3 separate regions of the Homo sapiens genome follow, and all the other regions are linked to region 2. Evidence: fine-mapped expression QTL. A gene starts in region 2. Each other region holds a variant in brackets. All regions are shown on one strand. Distances are between the middles of the regions.

Region 1 (4,245 bases), 52 kb before region 2:
GAGAGCCAATGTAACAATAAGGAGTAAGAGCTCAAGTATAAGTCAGGAATCATGCTCAGATGTCTGGGTTGCCTGGTGAGAATGTTCAAATGGATTTAATACTTTATCTTGACCAGGTGCAGTAGCTCATCCTTGTAATCCCAGCACTTTGGGAGGCTGAGGTGGGAGGATTGCTTGAGCCCGGGAGCTCAAGACCAGCTTGGGCAACAAAGTGAGATCCTGTATCTACAAAAAATAAAAAATAAAAAAATTAGCTGGGCATGGTGGTTCGTACCTGTAGTCCTAGCTAGTTGGGAGGCTGAGCGGGGAGGATCGCTTGAGCTTTTAGGATTTTGAAGCTGCAGTGAGCTATGATCACGCCACTGTGCTCCAGTCTGGGAAAGAGTGAGATCCTGTCTCGAAAAAAAAAAAAAACCTTTAACTGCCAAAAGGGGTATTTCTTTATTCACAGCCTCTATCGATGTACAGGATTACTTTTGTATCCTTCAGTATCCTTTTTAAGAAAATGGCAATAAGTTATTCCACTTATGGTGCCCATTGCTATTATTTCTTTTTACAATTATAACAAAAATAATTTTGTCATATAGAGAAGGATGGTGTTACAAATTAATTTACATGAGGTCAAATTTTCTAGGTAGGCTACTGCTTCTGGGATAATTTTCCACATAAACTTTGCCATCTCTAATAACTTTACTTGTACTCCTATACTCAAGTAAGCAAATCCTGCTTTTATATAATGACATGTTTCTGGAAAACCCGTATGTAATCAGAATCTTTGGAAAACATCTAAAATACATAATTTTGAACATGTGAGCTATCCATTTTCTTTTCAACAGGCTTACACCCCAGTTACCTTCTCTTCTTTTTTTATTCTTAAAACGGAAGTGAGAAGCTCCCATAAAGGGATATTTGGTGTTCTGGGCAAAGGATGTTAGATGCTTTTCCCACCCATCCGATGCCTTGTTTTGATTAACGGAGGCATAGCTTAGCTCCTTTCATCCCCAGAATAACTTTGTTCCAACCTCATGGGTCCTCCTTGGTCCTAAAGACAGTTTAAGATGATGTCAGATAACACCACATGTAAGACCTCTGCTTCCCATAACTTTGAAGTCACAGGCCAGCTTCTACCCAGCTGGAACTGAAATAGCAAAAGGTTACCTGCCAAAGGCCATCCAGGAACCACTTAGGCCAAAGATAAAGACATGGTTTCTCTGATGCAGCCTGAGGACAGGGTAGATGCAAATCGTATCTAGAAACAGGCTTTGGGCGCAGTGACTCACATCTGTAATCCTAGCACTTTGGGAGGTCAAGGCAGAGGATCACTTGAGGCCAGGAGCCCAAGACCAGCCTGGGCAACATAGCAAGACCCCATCTTTACAAAAATAAATAAATAAAAAGCTGGGTGTGGTGGTACATGCCTGTAGTGCTAGCTACTCAAGAAGCTGAGGCAAGAGGATCAGTTGAGCCTAGGGGTTCAAGGTTACAGTGAGCTGTAATCATGCTGCTGCTGCACTCCAGTCTGGGTGACAGAGCAAGACTGTATCTCTAAAAAAATAAAAAATAAATTAGAAACAGGCATATAATATGTGCTTGAATAATATGTGTTGGCTAAATGAATGAGTGCCTCACTGTTACTGGTAAAATCAACTAAGAATTTCTGAATGTCCCTTAGATTGTTCTTAAGGAGTAGTATCATCAAATTCTTAGACTCCCTTCATATCCACATGCTTAGATATAGTCACTGCATTCACTTGTAGATTTTCCCAAATGTATTTTCACAAGAGCTCTTTTAATAGTGGCTTAGATAGAACTTCTCTATAATTCATTCTATTTGTTCAAAGTATGAAAGTAATACCTGTGATGGGATGACTTGTTATCTGGATATCACTGCCATACTGTTATAAGCCAGCCTGCCCCCCAAATCCTTTAATTTTCCTTGCTTTGCTTAGTGCAGGTGAAGCATTCCTGCCCTTGGCCTCCTCCCACAGAGCCAGTTTTCTGCTGGATGGCAGTAAGAGTTAATCAGATATGCTCATCCGAGCACAAGCATCAGCCAAAGTGTGTGCCACTGTCT[G/C]ACATAAAACGAAGATGTTTCCTGAAGATGTTTAAGGAAAGCAATTAATTGTGTGAATTTCAGGCTAATGGGGGAAAAGTTCCATGGCATTTCCAGAGGAAATTCTGGCTTCAGCATTAGAAAGATCAGGATATAAATCTGGCTCCTGAAATTTATTTGCTGGCTGATCTTGACCAAGCCCTCTGAGAATCAGTTTCCTCATCTTAAAAATGGGAATGATGATTCTAATTGGCAGGATTGGTTGTTTATTTATTTATTATTTTTATTTTTTTGAGACAGAGTCTCTGTCTCTCTGTAACCCAGGCTGGAGTGCAGTGGCACAATCTCGGCTCACTGCAACCTCTGCCTCCTGGGTTCAAGCAATTCTCCTGCCTCAGCCTCCTGAGTAGCTGGGATTACAGGCATGCACCACCACGCCTGACTAATTTTTGTATTTTTTAGTAGAGATGGGGTTTCACCATGTTGACCAGGCTGGTCTCAAACTCCTGACATCAGGTGATCCACCTGCCTTGGCCTCCTAAAGTGCTGGGATTACAGGCGTGAGCCACTGTGCACAGCCAGGCAAGGTTGTTTAGTTTAGGTGGAATAACAGATGTTAGCATGCCTAGCATATTATAGGCTGTATTAATTGGCAGGTATAATTGTGGTGTATAGAGCCATTTTAAACTTCTCTGAAGTTATATTCTGTATGTGAGTTTCTGCCTGGATAGCTGATGCCAAGAACTGGTTTCCCTTGGAGTTAATAGGAAAACTCTTTCAGTTGGAATTGGTATCCAGACACTTAAGGATCATTAGTCTGGATGTTGGTTTTATTATTTGTTTCATGTATGTTGTTTTATTATTCTTAAATTATCTCCTTTGGATTTATTGGCGTCTTCTCCAGTGTATGTCATGCTAACCACATAGTAATTTGATGGTTAAAGGGATGAGGCATTCACTTGGAGACAATAGCATTTCCCTGATAGGAGGTCAATGTTTACCCTTAAATAAAGGGGTGGTTTTACATGTGTTCATAATAAAGGCAAGAAAGTATTACTTTGGATGAGTCTCTTACATTTACATGTACAGGGTCTAGAAACTACCCTAAAAGAGGCACACAATTATAACTTGAATATATGTTAAGATGATAAGCCTTAGGTTTTTCTACTTGCAGGGCTTGGGGGTGGAGGGGGGAACTATTATTTCTCCTTACATGAAAAACCCCAATTAAAGTATTAAGGAGATTTAGAAGCCCCTGCTAAAGGCTCTGAGAAGATGATCTGGGCTGTTTATTAACCCATTAATCCAGTGTACTTAATTCCTTTTGGCTAAGGGGGAAATGTTTTTTCCCCTTAATTTCCACACTAAATGAAACACTTAGACTCTGGTATCTATTTTTCATGAATGAATATGAGAGGTGCAAAAGCCATTTAATTTGCCTGTCAGTTTCTTTATAAAATGAGGGAGCTGGACCAGGCAGTCTTCTGTGCTGCCATTCTCTGAATTGTAATGCAAATTGGAAGGATTGAATGACTATGCAACATCTGTCAGTCACTCCACACGCTTCAGACGTCTGGCCTCTAGAAGATTGTAAACTTCTAATATTCAAAGGGAAGAAGTTGTTTAAACTGTCATACATGGAGTGAAAAAGCAGTAAGAGAATTTTGATTTTTCAGTTTGCTTTTTTTTTCTTCTCCACCGGCAAGTCATTGCTTCTTCATAAAGTTTAGAAAATGTTTCTGTTGAGTTGTTCTGGGTGCCTTCTCAGGAATGTTGTGCTTTTCTCTGGTAGAGAATGTGCTGTGTTAGCTGGGCGCAGTGGCTCACACCTGTAATCCAGCATTTTGGGAGTCTGAGGCAGGTGGATCACTTGAAGTCAGGAGTTCGAGACCAGCCTGGCCAACATGGTGAAACACCACCTCTACTAAAAATACAAAAATTAGCTGGGCATGGTGGTGCACGCCTGTAATCCCAGCTACTCAGGAGACTGAGGCAGGAGAATTGCTTGAACCCAGGAGATGGAGGTTTTGAGATGCTGTCTCAAAACAAACAAACAAACAAACAAAAAAATGAGCGAGAGAGAATGTGCTGTGTTAAAAACTTTTTTTTTTCCCTTCTATGGAGCTTTTTGAGATGGGGTCTCTGTCACCCAGGCCGGAGTACAGTGGCGTGATCATAGCTCACTGCAACTT
Region 2 (4,245 bases):
ATAAACTAACCTCTTAGAGGTTGCTTTTTATCTTTCCTAGTTCCTGTCCACCAAAATGGTCACTATACCAAGAAAATTCCTTGAAATAGATTATCTCAGAACCTAAGCCATTGCTAAATCTGAAGGTTGGACTTCCTTTGGGATGGTTTTCATTTACATTCACCTTCCTCATGTAACTCAGATTTAGGTCTCATTCTAGCTTGGCCTGTGTCTGGTTTGGGCCAATCTCTTAAATCTTCCTGGACATCAGTTTCCTTATTTTTTTTTTTTTTTTGAGACAGAGTTTCGCTCTTGTTACCCAGGCTGGAGTGCAATGGCGCAATCTCGGCTCACTGCAGCCTCTGCCTCCCAGGTTCAAGCGATTCACCTGCCTCAGCCTCTCGAGTAGCTGAGATTATAGGCACCCACCACCACGCCCAGCTAATTTTTTGTATTTTTAGTAGAGACGGGGTTTCACCATGTTGGCCAGGCTGGTCTTGAACTCCTGACCCCAGATGATCTGCCCGCCTTGGCCTCTCAAAGTGTTGGGATTACAGATGTGAGCCACCGCACCCAGCCCAGTTTCCTTATTTTTAAAATCAGGTTATTTGCTAAAATAGCTAGGAAGACTTTTCAAGCTCAAATATCCTACCGTGGGTTCTTTTATCATCTTATTGCCCCTGTCCTTTTTCTCTTCCTCCCTGACTGGTGAGCTGGTCCTCCTACCTGCCCTAGCATGGCACATGTAGATACACTGTGTTATTCAGCACTTTGCTTTGACCTAGAGGTTTTCTTCAACTTGGAGGGCTGAGAAGCAATGTTTGCTTGTGTCGTTTGGAATGGTGCCTGTTGGCGTGCACAGATCCTTTCCACAAAGGGCCTGTGAGTCCCTTCCTTTTAGGAAGCACATTCCTGACAGTGGTTGCAAAAGTAGAGAGGGATTGCAGAGTGAACACAGATTCTTGTGTCAGAGCGACATTCCTAAATGGCAATGTTCAGCAGACTTAGGTGATTGTGATCTATGGGGGATATGGGGAATGAGTAGGTATGCGATTCATTATGAATGTCACACAAATGAAGTGTCCAAGGGTTTGGAGCAAGGAAGCACTTCATAATACCTCACAGCTTCTGGATTATTTTGTTACATTTTTGTTTAATTGAGGGTACAACCAGTTAAGTTACAAAGCACTTCAAGTGAAATCATTGTTTCATCAAGAAGTGTCTGTATTTTATGAGGTAAACTAAGATTATTCCCGATTTGATTCACAGGTATTCTAATTTCATCATTAGATGCAAAAGGACAAGTGAGGTACAAGCTGTTTTTTGATGAGATGTGCATGGGAAGTGTTTCTATAAAACAGTTGTCTGCCACGTGGGAAGGCAGGTCTGGGCTGTTAGAAGTAGAAGAAAGAGATTTAAAGAGCTGGGAAGGAGGGAGAAAATAAAGAAAGGTGGCCTGTGAGGATATGTACAGACAGAGAGGTAGCAGGCGCTTAAGGCCAAGAGGTGAGCTGTCCCTGTCTGGGCAGAAGAAGTGCGCTAGGGGCAGCTGCCTGCACCCCCTGCTCTGAATTCCTGCAACAGCGGTCCCAGGAGAACAAGAGACAGGTCCTGACAAGCAGTAGAGTCGGTGCAGCGCGCCCGGGTTCGGATAGGGTTAAGGCCAACACCTGCAGCTGAAGTACGACCCACATGGGAAGTAGGAAGTGCGGCGCCTGAGCTTCCTGTATAAATAAACGCGCTGCTACCGCTGCTGGCGAGCTGTGCCCCACGCTCCCGCTGCAACAGTCCCGGGCATCGCAGCTGCCAGTCAAGGCTAGGAGGCGGTCGGGGACTCCGCCTCCTCCCGACCCGTAGGTCTGGGAGCGCAAGTCCTGTTGCAGTCTTGCAAAGTGTAAAGCTGTCAGCCGCAGAGCACGGAGGAAAGACGGAGAGAATGGAAGAGCTCCTGTCCGGTGTGCCAGCAGCCCGGACTGGCGGTGAGCGCGAGGGAGGCTACTGAGAAGCCCGGCGACGGAGGAACGCAGGTCTGCTGCCAGGTAGGTTTAGCGAGCTTTTTAAAGGCTACAGGCGTTGCAAGACCGGAATGGTGTTGCTGGACTAAGGAAAAAGGACAGGAAACTCACTGTGACACCACAATTTTTCGATTTTCTGTCTCTAGTGCTCAAACCATACAGAACTGAATTCATTCTGAATGCCTTAAACACCTGTTAACTTAGAAGAAAAATGCCTTTGTTAAAGGAAAGTAGTTTCATTTCTAATAAAACAGTTTCTATAATAGAATGTATTGTAGAATCCGAGATTAGACCAGACCTCTCCCTAGGTCTTAAGGGGAGACCAAAAGTTGGCATAATCTCGGATTATGCATTATAGTGCTTATTTTATCAGGTAATTGCTAATGAAACAGTGAAACTCTGATACTACGAGAGCCATTCTCAAATTTAAGTTAAAATCGAACTGATTGTCGTTTGTGCAGGGAAAAGGTAGGTATCTTTTGCTTATTCTTTCTAAAACACCTTTTGTTTTTCTCATGAGTTTCAAGGATCCTGCTGTAAGTCTACTCCTCATGCATATACACTATTCACATAAAGATTTCCCAGAAATTAATTCCCTTCTCTGGGAAATGTTCTTTTTTCATGTTCTCATAACAGACTGTCAGTTTCATATTGCTTTCTGCCACATGTATCTTATCAAAACATTAGCTCTGAGGTTCTTAACAGGACTATCTCTGCTCTTCCGATTTGGCATTTCTGGACGTTTATTTGAACATTGAGAGGTATAAATTAAATGGCAATGTATCTAACATTTCTGAGGAAGCAGATTAGGGGGTGTCTGTGCCCAGAAGCAAAATAAATGAACTTTGGGATGACTCAGTTTTTAGGGTGTGGGTAAGAGGCAAAAGGAACCTAGCCAGTCCTAACTGAGTTGCTGGCTAATTAGAGTATCTGTCTGCCGCAGCTTTCACTGAAATGAGCCTCTTGGTCCCTTTCACATCAAATCCCTCTGTGAGTCCCTCCTTCTCCTTAGTTTATCTTTCCTTCACAACCTGGGTCCTTTTCATGGACAGCAGTGCCTTAAATACTTCTAAAACTATCCTGAGGGGGAGAAAAACCTATAGCAGATCCACAAAGCCACTTGTAGATAATTGTATTATGAAATCCAAGGTCATGGTTTCACACAACTCCTGCTCTGCCCTTGCACACCTTTGACTGGCATTTTTTTTTTTATTTTTGTCGTGGGCATAAACTTAGAAAAGTGGGAAAGGGAAAAACCTCAGTTTCAAAAGTAGTCTCTGACTAATTAATTATCTTGATTAAAAAAAGGTAAACATATATAGTGAACGTGAAAAAGATGTTGAGTAGTAGAATTGGGTTGCTTGGCTTTTTATTTAAAACAAACAAAACTCAACCAAAAAAACCCCCCAAAACCCCAAACAATCACCCTAGATAACTTTCTCCTACACTACTGTGCTGGAAGTCGGGCTTGAGTGTGGTCAAATCCTGCCCATTTACCCAGAGTTTTACAAATATTTACAGTCATCTATGCCAAATATCTTTGTGCTGAGTCCCAAAGAACATTCTCAGCATTCAAAAGGCCCATTCTCATGAATGGTTTCAGTTCATTGGCAATTTAAAGGCATTCAGGCTTCCAAACTAGGTCAGCTTAAGACATGTCTTTTTAAAATAATCAGTTTTTGGGTCTCAGATTATGAACCAGGTTTTTGGAGCCAAACTCTACAGCAGAGAGAAGAGTATGCTCTCTCTGGAAAGAAAAAGCTTATTTTATCTACCTGGTATGACCATTTAACTTCCTGAAAAACGTCTTTCTCCTCAGTAGTATGAATATTTTTCATCTGAGGAGGTGCACTTAAAATTTCCTTCTTGAAAAGTCATTTCAATATTTTAGACGTTTAGAAACATTTATATGTATGTCAGAATCCTTTCTCCGAAGTGTTTCTGCTAATCCTGGCTTCTTTGTTTCCCCTGGCCTTGACTTTATGACATTACTTTCTTGGAGAGTGAAGTTTTTAGTGTTTGAAATCTCCAGTTTGAGATAGAGGTCAGGAATCATGCTGAACCCAGATGTTACTGAAGGAACAAAGTCTGAGCAGTTTTGGGACTAAGCCTACTTTGTACAACTGATTATTTTGGATGTGGGAAAAGGGCCAAGCTGCCAGACAAGTCATGCTTTTCACTTGGACTTTGGGGAATAGGTATCTGTAGCCATTGCTCCTAAGTACTGAAACATTTCTTTCAGGGGTGCCTA
Region 3 (4,245 bases), 32 kb after region 2:
AGATAGATCAATGGAATAGAATTGAGAGTCCATAAATAAATAAATAAATCTTATTTTTTGTCATTTGATTTTCAACAAGGGTGCCAAGACAATTCAAAGAGGAAAGAAATGTTTTTCAGCAAATGGTGCTGGACAACTGGATATCTGTTTGCAAAAGAATTAAGATGTCTGTGATCTTCCTCATACCACAGACAAACATTAACAAAAATGGACCATACACCTATAACAGCTGAAACTATAGAACTCTTAGAAGAAGAAAACATAGGAAAATAGAAAAATTTTCATGATCTTGGGTTAGGCAAGACATTCTTAGATGTGACACCAAAAGCATAAGCGACAAAAGAAAAAGCAGATAAATTGGACTTCATCAAAATTAAAGACCTTTTTGCTTCAATGGACATCATCAAGAAAGTTAAAAGATAACTCACAGAATGGGAGGAAATATTTGCAAGTCATATCTCATAAGGGATACAGCTAGAATATATAAAGAATTCTTACAACTCAGTAATGAAAACACAAATAACTCAGTTACAAATAGATGAAAGTATAGATAGTTCTGAATAGGGACTTCTTCAGAGATGATGTACAAATTACCAATAAGCATGTGAAAAGATGCTCAAAATCACTAGCCAACAGGGCAATGCAAATCGAAACCACAATGATATTCGACTTCACATTAAGATGGCTATAATAAAAAAGACAGAAAATAACGAGTTTTGATGAGAATTTAAAGAAGTTGAAACTCTCATACACTGCTGGTGGGAATGGAAAATGATGCAATTGCTTTGGAAAATCATCTAGCAGTTCCTCAAAAGGCAAAGATAGAGTTACCATATACCATACCTACTCCTAGGTAAATATCCAAGAGAAACGAAAATGTATGTCCACATGAAAACTTGCTCATAGCAGCATAATTCATAATACCACTCAACTGGAAACAACCCAAATGTCCATCAACTGATGAAAGTATAAACAAAATGTGGTATATTCACACAATGGCATACTATTCAGCAATAAAATAAATGAAGTACCAATACATGCTACAACATGTATGAATCTTGAAAACATTATGCTAAGTGAAGCCATTGACAAAGGACCATATATTGTATCATTCCATTTATATGAAATGTAGAGAGTAGGAAGATCTATACATACAGAAAGTCAAATGGTGGTTCCCTAGGGCTGTGCATGGAGGATCTGGGGGAGAAATGGGGAGCATGTACTAATGGGCACAGAGTTTCTTTTGGGATTATGAAATGTTCTAAAATCAAATTTGGTGATAGTTATACACTGTGAATATACTAAAAATACTGAATTGTACACTTTAGATGGGTGCATTGTATGGGTACGTGAATTATATCTCAGTTATAGATATCTGAATTATATCTCAATAAAACATGACATAATATAAAATATATAATATTTACATATCATATATAATAATGCTATATATATAATATACACTGACACCTGGATCCTTCTCTTAGAGAGTCTGAATTAATTGGTCTGTGGTATGGCCTGGGCATTGGACTTCTGGAAACCTTCCCAGATAATTCTATTAAAAAGCTGATGTGGAGAATCTTTGACATGGGTCTTGGTACTTACAAGTGTGGTTTGTGTGCCAGTGGCACCAACGAGACCTGGGAACTTACAAGGAGGGCAAAACCTCAGACCCCACCCAAGATCCACTGAATCAGAATCTGCATTTTTGATGGGATCCTCAAATAACTTGGATGGACATTCAAGTTTGAGAAACATTGTCAGTAAGGTAGTTGAATAGTAAGGCAGGCGAATGTTATCTCTGAAGTTCCTTATCCTCTGTCCATCCACCCCTCCTCCTCCTGCCTATGGCTTTTTATTAAGGATACCCTTCCCAGTAGTGTCCCATATCTTCCAGTGTTTCTTGTCCATAAAAACATACCAGGCTTAGATCATTTTCTTCGGGGGCACTGCTCTCTGCTAGGGAACCACTGGCCTTTTGGGATATATTCTCCTGAGAGCAAATAGGCAGTGGACTAGCACAACTGGTTCTATATAGCAAATGAGGCGACCCAGGAAGAAAGTGTAGAAAGAAGAGAGTTTAGGTCCTTTCCTGAAATTCCAGCATTTAAAAGTTGAGTTGAGGAAAATGCAGAAGATTGAGAAAGAGTGACTAGAGAGGAAGAATGAAAACCAGAAGAGTATGGGATCCAGAAGACAAGGGGAAAAAGGGTTTCAGGAAGGTGGGAGTGGTTAGCTGTGTGTGATACTGCTGTTGAGAGGTTGGGAAGGAAGAAATGTGTACTGGATTCAGTGACCTAGAGCCACTTCAGTTGAGTGGCAGGGAGGAGTTGGGAT[G/C]GGATTGGTGAAGGAGTGAGGGAAGACAACTCTTTCAAACATTTGATTGTGAAGAGTTGAGGAGTGAAGAAGGCAGTATACAGCCAGGAAGAGGAGTGAGAGAGGGCTGTTCTATGCTGTTTTATTATGACTTTTCTTTGATTTCTTTGATTAGGATATTTTGAACATGTTCAAGTATAGACAGGACAAAATTCAAGACATAGGAAAGAAAACAGGTAATGAATAGGTAAATTTCCTGAAAGGCAGGAGGAGATGGGAACCAGAAAAGCAGAGTTGGCTCCTATGTGTCAAGAAAAGAAGAACAGAGGATGGATGTGTGTTTGGGTGGGTTCATATGTTTCAGTTATCAGAGGTGAAGGAGCTTGGCCACAAAGTTGAGCACAGACTGAGTATCCCCTATCTCCTTATCTGAAATGCTTGGGACCAGTAGTGTTTCGGGTTTCTGATTTTTTTTTTGATTTTGGAATATTTGCATTATACTTACTAGTCTACCATCTCTAATCTGAAAATCTAAAGTCTAAAATCCTCCAATAAGCATTTCCTTTGAGCACCATATTGGTGCTTAAAAAGTTTTGGATTTTGGAGCATTTCAGATTTTGGATTTTCAGATTAGGGATACTCAACCAGTAAGTGCTGGATTCAGGCTTCCAGCTCTCAGAGAAGCCTGAGTGTCTACTATGTGCCAGGTCCTGTGATTGATTAGGTGCTTGTAGGGGACATGAAGAGGAGCAGATATAATCTAGATCTAGAAGGAGCTTCTAGGCTATAGAGGAGGCAGGCAAGTTGATAGTCATTTGCAATGCAGCATGCTGGGCGTGCTACATTGCTCATGTGTACAATAAACATCTGGTGTTACCTACGGTCATCATAGAAAGGTTGGCAAGTAGAGGAGGAAAAGCCAAGTCTTCTGGAGAATTTGGGGAGCGGGGGAGGTTGCATCATTTATAAAATTCCTTCTGGATAGTCTGATATTCTAGTATGTCCCCAAGTGAGAAGGCAATACCACCAGCCTCACTGCTATTGAGAATCAGTCCATTCTCCCTCCTTTTGATGATTTTATGTGGCTTCCTTTTGAAGGGGAAAAGAATTGGAACTTAATATCAAACTATTTTAAAATTTCCTTTATTAGAGTCTTACGAAAACTTATACAAACATGATACTAAGTAGTATATAAGCATATTTAGGCATATATCTCTTAAAGAATAAGAACACCACAATAATTATACAAACTTAATATTGATTAAAATTACAGACCAATAAGGCCAGGCATAGTGGCTCATGCCTGAGATCTTAGCACTATGGGAGGCTGAGGCAGACAGATCACTTGAGCTCAGGAGTTCAAGATCAGCCTGAGCAACATGGCGAAACTCTGTCTCTACCAAAAATACAAAATAGCCTGGCATGGTGGTGCGCACCTGTGGTCCCAGCTACTCAGAGGCTGAGGTGAGAAGATTGCTTGACCCCAGGAGGCAGAGGTTGCAGTGAGCTGAGATCGTACCACTTCACTCCAGCCTGGGTGACAGAGTGAGAAACCATCTCAAAAAAAAAAATTATATATTATACACACACACACACACACACACACACACACACACACACACACATATATATAAAATAAAATTACAGACCAATAAAATGTAAGTTAACATTAATGTGATGAGTGATGTTTAACTTTGGGTAAATTGCTTTTTCCAGTTAGGCTCTGAGTTTGATGTGTTCCAATGACTAAGTGGTAATTCAGTGATCTTGTCACCTTTCTCTGTTGGAATCACTAAAAATTTTGACGTGTTCAGCATTCACTGGGCCCAGATTCTTCTCTTCTTTTTTTCATTTGCCTGTGACAATGATAGCACCCCTACGTGGCAAAGCAGGGTGGCACCACAGACCAAGGGTTAGCACGGACACTGG

The links. PIP is the estimated chance that this variant, and not a neighbour inherited with it, causes the effect. A credible set is the group of variants that fine-mapping cannot tell apart.
Region 1: its variant is the best candidate, but not a certain one, in a credible set for the expression of RNF144B in whole blood (TOPMed, PIP 0.69).
Region 3: its variant is the best candidate, but not a certain one, in a credible set for the expression of RNF144B in whole blood (INTERVAL, PIP 0.72).

Annotation. Positions count from the first base shown.
Region 1 is chr6:18,333,126-18,337,370 of GRCh38, forward strand. No RefSeq gene overlaps it. Among named protein-coding and RNA genes, the nearest start is that of RNF144B, 52 kb to the right of the region's middle. The variant G/C (reference allele first, on the strand shown) is at 2,075.
Region 2 is chr6:18,385,613-18,389,857 of GRCh38, forward strand. RNF144B (ring finger protein 144B) reads left to right here and starts at 1,738. Exons shown (of 8, transcript NM_182757.4): 1 at 1,738-2,018.
Region 3 is chr6:18,417,376-18,421,620 of GRCh38, forward strand. All of the region lies in intron 2 of RNF144B (ring finger protein 144B), which reads left to right. LOC124901271 (a long non-coding RNA gene) reads left to right here and starts at 3,916. Exons shown (of 2, transcript XR_007059487.1): 1 at 3,916-4,245. The variant G/C (reference allele first, on the strand shown) is at 2,338.